Linked DNA regions of Homo sapiens. The protein of the gene in region 1 interacts with the protein of each later gene in a pairwise test. Each region holds a gene or a part of one and is shown on either strand. Other genes may lie near its edges.

The links.
Region 2: the proteins of RAB6A (region 1) and TMEM132D interact in a two-hybrid assay, tested with the Homo sapiens proteins (one large-scale study listed by BioGRID).

What each region holds. Positions count from the first base shown.
Region 1 is NC_000011.10:73,751,048-73,754,658, reverse strand, and holds part of RAB6A (ras-related protein Rab-6A), read left to right. Parts: intron 1-3,611. UniProt on the Homo sapiens protein: The small GTPases Rab are key regulators of intracellular membrane trafficking, from the formation of transport vesicles to their fusion with membranes.
Region 2 is NC_000012.12:129,894,020-129,897,630, forward strand, and holds part of TMEM132D (transmembrane protein 132D precursor), read right to left. Parts: intron 1-3,611. UniProt on the Homo sapiens protein: Regulate neuronals morphology via inhibition of the WAVE regulatory complex (WCR), a complex that controls F-actin cytoskeletal dynamics.

The sequences.
Region 1 (3,611 bases):
GCATGAGCCACTGTGCCCAGCCTTCATGTTAACATCATTTCTGAAATGAAAAAGAACTATTTTCCAAACAGATATTTAGTGAGAGTGACATTGTTTTACATATTTGCAAATCTCTTTAATGTCTGACTTAATAGAGGACAATTGGATTTGCATAGCTGCTTATGCATTCAATCCTGTAATATTACACATCATATAGGCACGGGGAAACTCCACAATACATTTCAAGAGAGTAAGAGTGAAAAATTCAAATAACATCTTAATCTTATGAAAATGGTTTTGACATCCAGGAGTTTGTGGACCTCCCCAAAGGTCTTGGGAGATCCTAAGGGGTCAGTAGACCACTCTTTGTAAACTGCTGGGTTAGGTAATATCAAGTCAATTGTATCTCCTGTTATAATGTTGCCAGTTTTTCATATCTTGTTCTGAAGCCTTAAAACTGCGTGGTACATACAGTTAATGATTTAGAGCACTAGAGGACTGGTAGAGATGGAGAGTAAGAGTCTAGGTTTCATGTTTTAGCAGTGGCTACTGACCTTTGGCAGATTACTCAACATGTCTTTATGCCCCATTTTTCCTTATCTATAACATAAAGATAATAGACCTATCATAGAGTTATTGTGACATTTAAACTAGTCAAATAATGCAAAACATTTAGAAGAGTGCTGGGCACATGAGAAGTGCTCAGAAAGTGTTTTAATTTAACAAATCTTTATTGAAAATTGCTACAGTGTCAGGTGGTTTGGTAGTGCTTACTTTTAAGGAATTTACGTTTTATCAGGGAAGAAATACACAATACTTAATACAATATAGCATGATGAGTGCCACTGCTTTTAAAAGTAGAGCTAAGGCTGGGCGTGGTGGCTCACGCCTGTAATCCCAGCACTTTGGGAGGCCTAGGTGGGCAGATCACTTGAGGTCTGGAGTTTTTTTGTTTTTTTGTTTTTTTTTCAGACGGAATCTCGCTCAGTCACCGAGGCTGGAGTGCAGTGGCGCAATCTCGGCTCACTGCAAGCTCTGCCTCCCGGGTTCATGCCATTCTCCTGCCTCAGCCTCCGGAGTAGCTGGGACTACAGGCGCCCGCCACCATGCCCGGCTAATTTTTTGTACTTTTAGTAGAGACGGGGTTTCACCGTGTTAGCCAGGATGGTCTCGATCTCCTGACCTCGTGATCTGCCTGCCTCGGCCTCCCAAAGTGCTGGGATTACAGGCATGAGCCACTGTGCCCGGCGAGGTCTGGAGTTGGAGACTAGCCTGGCCAACATGGTGAAACCCTGTCTCTACTAAAATACAAAAAATTAGCTGGGCATGATGGCGTGCATCTGTAATCCCATCTCAGGAGGCTGAGGCAGGAGAGTCACTTGAGCCCGGGAGGCAGAGGTTGCAGTGAGTGGCCATGTTGGCCAGGTTAGTCTTGAACTCCTTGCTGTCTCACCCAGGCTACAGTACAGGGGTGCCATTATAGCTCACTGCAGCCACGAGCTCCTGGGCTCAAGTGATCCTCCCACCTCAGCCTCTGGAGCTGTTGGGATTAGAGGCATTCGCCATTGCGCTCGGCTGATTAAAAAAAATTTTTTTAGCAAACGAGGTCTTGCTGTGTTGCCAGGCTGCTTTCCAACTCCTGGCCTCAAGTGATTCCCGCCTCAAGCTCCTGACTCTGGAATTACAGGCATGCACCACCTCACCTGGCTTGGACTTTTTATTAGACTTCCTGATTTTATTTCATCTGGTCTCTTTCATTTCCTTAAGCTTCTGTTTTAATTCTCATAAGATTTTTCTCAACTTTCTTCCATTTTTTTATTATTTTTTTCTGCTATCATTTTAATTTTTTTTTTCTTTTTTTTGAGCTGGAGTCTTACTCTGTCACCCAGGCTTGAGTGCAGTGGTGCAATCTCAGCTCACCGCAACCTGTGCCTTCCAGGCTCAAGTGATCCTCCCACCTCGGCCTCTTGAGTAGCTGGAACCACAAGCATGCGCCACCAAGGCCGGCTATTTTTTGTATTTTTGGTAGAGATGGCGTTTTGCCATGTTGCCCAGGCTCATCTCGAATTCCTGAGCTCATGCGATCTGCCTGGCCTCGGTCTCCCAGAGTGCTAGGATTACAGGCATGAGCCACCGTGCCAGTTCTTATCATTTTAATTTCAAAGAGTGTTTTTGTTCATCTTCTGAATGTTCCTTTCTGTAGCATCTGTGTTTTTGTTTTTTTGAGACAGAATCTTGCCCTGTCACCCCGGCTGGAGTGCAATGGTGCAATCTTGGCTTACTCCAACCTCTACCTCCCGGGTTCAAACGATTCTCATACCTCAGTCTCCTGAGTAGCTGAGATTACAGGCATCTGCCACCATACCTGGCTAATTTTTGTATTTTTAGTAGAGACGTGATTTCACTGTTTGTCAGACTGGTCTCGAACTCTTGACCTTCAGTGATCTGCCCCCTTGGCCTCCCAAAGTGCTGGGATTACAGGTGGGAGTCACCACACCCAGCCTTCTGTAGCATCTTTTTAATTCCCAATTTTTACCTTTTCTTGTCATTTTGAAGATGTTAATAAGATACATGACTTTTTTCTTCCTGCATATTTAGTTTTTGTAAATTGTTTTTCATCTCTGCTTGTTTTAGTTTCTCTATTTCCTGTTTGATGTGGTCCTCAAAAAACTAGTGTTTCTTGGCTATTTGCTTCTATTTAAGAGGTGAGCACTGAGAGTTGTGTTTTTGTTTTTGTTTTTTATGCTCTTGTGTGGGTTTGTGGGTCTTTACTGCAGAATGATCTTGCTGAGTTCCTTTTTGGGAGTCTCTGATGTTAGGTCTTTAAGTCTTTTTGCTGGTCAGATTCCCTGAAGAAGAATTACTCAGTGCACTGCTGGAGAGAATCTTGGTTGTCAGTGTTCTTGGAGGTGAATGGAGAGAGGGTTTGAAGTCATAACATACAGTAAATGCATTTAGTCTCCTTGCTTTTAATATTGTTTGTACTCTATCCCTCAGCTGTACCTTGTAATCCCTAGTACAGAAACCCCGTTTTTCTTTCTCAGCAGCATTATCTTCTAATTTTCAGCTGTGTTGAACAGAAGAGGGAATAGAAGAGAGTGTTAATCTACTTGTTAAATAGACTTTCATCCCTTCCTTCTGTTTTTAGCTCCATCTTTACCTTTATTTCTAGATGTACTTGGCCCAGACAATTCCTAAGTCAATGGGGGTTCTGTGGTCCAAATCAGCTTTCTCAGCTTTCCCCATTGTCGGTTTAAAATTGATCATTATTGAGTCTTTTAGGTCAATTACTACTTTTCCATTTGCTTTCTACTTTCTAACTTGGATGATTCAGATTTTCCGAGAACCAACACTTAATACTTGCTTAGGGTTGGTTAGTTGGTTTGTTTTTTGAGACGGGGTCTTTCTGTGTTGCCCAGGCTGGAGTGCAGTCCATTCACAGGCATGATTATAGCGTACTACAGCCCGGAACTCCTGGCTCAAGTGATCCTCCTGCCTCAGCCTCCTGAGTAGCTGGGACTATAGAGTCAGGCCAGTGAGCCTGACTCTTTTCTTTTTTAAAAGTACACTTTGGCCGGGGGGCATGGTGACTCACACCTGTAATCCCAGCACTTTGGGACACTAAGGCGGGA
Region 2 (3,611 bases), on another chromosome or scaffold:
GCGTGAAGTCATTTGTCCATCACACTGTCCAGGCCTGTATTATTCTGTTCTCATGCTGCCAAAAGAGACACATCCAAGACTGGGTAATTTATAAAGGAAAGAGGTTTAATGGACTGATAGTTCCACATGGCTGGGAAGCCTCACAATCATGGCAAAAGGCAAAGGAGAAGCAAAGGCACAGCCTGCATGGTGGCAGGCAAGAGAGCGTGTGGAGGACAACTCCCATTTATAAAACCATTAGATCCTGTGAGACTTATTCACTCCATGAGAGTGTATGGGGGACACCGCCCCCCATGATTCAATTATCTCCACCTGGTCCCACCCTTGACATGTGGGGATTATTACAATTCAAGGTGAGATTTGGGAGGGGACTCAGCCAAGGGGATATCAAGGCCTATCCACCAGTAGAGCAGAAACAAAGAGGGTCTGAAAGGTAGAGAGAGATGAAGCAGGTTCTGGTGGGATCCTTAAAGACCCCGGGTCAGCCTCATCTAAAATCAGCACAACTCTGGACTCCTAAGTCTCTTAAGATAATTCGAAGCTTCATGTAACAGAGTCCTGATGGTGTGGAGTCAGGATAAAGCATGAGGATATTCCACATCCATAATGATAAAACTATGATTATTCATGAGTGCTCCTGGCCTTCCAGGCCTCCGCTTCCATAAGACACATTGACAAGACACCCCACAGAGCTCGCACCTTCCTTGTTGGTTTCTTGTAGTTTCTCTTTTTTTTTTCCTCTGGCAGTTTCATGACTGTCAACTCTTATTAAGCTTATTTTCATACGAATCTCCAAGTCTTTTTACACGTGTTCCTCTCAAACTCCTCTCTCGTACCTCCCAAGTCAGCGTGTGTGATCTACGTTCAGCATGTTGCAATATCCCCTTTGTCTCACATGTTAGATTGTCCTCATCTCAGGTGAGCTTTTGGTCACAACTCTGCCACGCAAAGGCCTTACCACTCCACCCCTTCTGTGTAGCTGCTCTTCTGAGGTTTGCGCGAAGGAGCTCATCTGTTTGGACAGCCACCTCTGATACAAATGTTCACCTGGGCAGGGCTGGGGACAGAGTCCTGGGGTCTCCTTGGAACGTGCTCAAGGTTCATACCACACCATCTGCTACCATCTGAGCTGCTGGGAATCCACCAAAGCATAGCACCCCCCAGGTACACGTCACCGTTGTGTGGACAACAGTGCTGGGGTGAGCGCTAATCCCAGTGCCCAGCATCAGTAAGCACCGAATACAGACCTCTTCATTTGTTTGTAACGTTACTGAAATCTCTATCTTTACTCCACATTCTATCCAGTAGCAAAACAAAGCTCTGTAGATACTGCCACACTCCCACCCCACCCAATGATTTCAGGGATCACTTCTAAGTTTTGAGAGGTTCGGAGTGACCACAACAACCAGGAGGGCTTTGTGATTGGTACAAATGATATCTTGTCTCCTGTGGTCAGTCCACACAGACTATGGTTTGTGCCTCCCTGGTCTTGACCACAAGGCCTCCTCGGGCCAATTGGGCTTCCTCAGCCATGCCTGCACAGCCCTGGCTGCCAGGAAAAGATTCTGCTATTTGAGCCATGCTCGGGCATGCTGCCTGGTCACCTCATACGAACATTCCTTCTGCTTCATCTCCAGGCTATTTAGGACAGAGTGTCTTCATTTGTGGCTCTCCCAATATATTCACGAAGTCAATCTAGAATATTTTTAATTTGTCATTGGAGTGACGTGGCACAGAGCAGCTGAAAAGCCCACCAGCATCTAAGCTGCCCTCCAAATTCTCCTGCCCTTTCCCCTAGTAAAAAAAAAAAATTACTTGGTGAAGGAAGAAGAGAAAGGCTGAGAAACCATATGCCTGGGAAGATAGGTTCTTCCAAATCTTTTCTCTATTGCTGGATACCAGCTTTTGAAATCAAAAGTCAGGAATTTGATTTCTCTGTCTCTCTTTTTTTTTTTTTTTTTTTTGTTTGGAGACAGGGTCTCACTCTGTCACTCAGGTTAGAGTGTATTACATGATCACAGCTCACTGCAACCTCCACCATCCAGGTTCCAGCAATCCTCCCACCTTAGCCTCCAGAGTAGCTGGGACAACAGGCACACACCACTGCACCTGGCTCATTTTTTTTGTTTTGTTTTGTTTTGTTTTTGTAGAGATGGAGTCTTGCTTTGTTGCCCAGGCTGGTCTTGAACTCCTGGACTCCTCAAGTGATCCTCCCACCTGGGCCCCCCAAAGAGCTGGGATTACAGACATGAGCCATCATGCTTGGCCTTGACTTTCCTGTCTCGTGCCTTCTGCTGTTCCAAGAGGCAGTGGCTGCCAGGTGTTCATCTGCACGAGAAAGGAGAGGCCAGGGCAGCAGGGAATGAGAGCAGGCAGGGCAATGTCGCCATCTGTTTTGATATCAAAATACTTTATTGCCACAATATCCTGCCAAACACTCTTTGAGTCTCGGCAGGCTATTTTATCACTGAAGCGTCTTCCCATCTACCAGTATAGCTTTCCTGACCAAAATGCAAACAAACAAATAACAACAATGAAATCTGACAGACATCTTCTTAGTGAATCTGCAGAGGGAGATTCCCATAAACATAAACATTTAATGTCACTCTCGTGAAAAGAATAACTTAATGTCACTAAAAGTTAAACACTTTTTTGGAACCTCTTGTCTTTCCAAATGTACATCTGAATCTCCCTTTATTTATATACTTTACTTACTTCCTAAGAGTGGAACCTCTTGTCTTTCCAAATGTACATCTGAATTTCCCTTTATTTATATACTTTACTTACTTTATATACTTTACTTACTTCTTAAGGGAGGAGAAGTGGCTATTTGAATTCTCTTTCAAAGGCATGTTTTTTACCTTTATAACTGTTGACTGATCTGTTCTAAAACTATGTACTTCAGTCGCTTTTCAGATGCATGCCACAGGTTTGTTTACTTTCAAGGTCAAGGGCCTTCCTTCTCCATCAATTCTTAATTTATGGAGGGGGTGCACCTTGGGTGACTCCTGAAACCAATGTTTAAGGACAGAGGTGACGGAAGCACCTAGCCTCTGACTGTGGTATGTACCCCTTAATTCTTCCTACAGCAGATTTTTCTTTTAAATAAATGACAAAGTCATCTAAAAATATTCCGAGTCTTTGGTCCCATGTCACAACAAATCCATGCTGGTTTCCTCTTCGTTTTGTGAGAGGCCGCACCATATCATCTCCACAATTCATTCAAGTGTGCTGTCTGGCGTCAAACATCAAAATCAACAACGCATATGTTCACAGCATCAAGCATCCTTCTTCTGCAAACAGGAAGAGTCTGTGTCTTCATTCCGCATGCTTCTTCCTCATTCTTTATAATTTCCCAGAGACCACTGATGTGTCACCTACACTTTTGGTCCTGGAAGACCAGAGGCCATGTCTTAGTCTTCCCTGCCCAGGACCCTACACATGTTAGGGACATAGATGAATAAACAGGTCCTGAAGACAGTCCACTGGGCATGTCTGCAAGTTCTTTAAGAAGCTTGACCTAGGGAGGTGGGGGAGGAGGAAAATAAAAATAAAAAAAACAAAAAAGAAGCTGACCTAGGAGATAACCAAACCATTCCACACCATCAGAG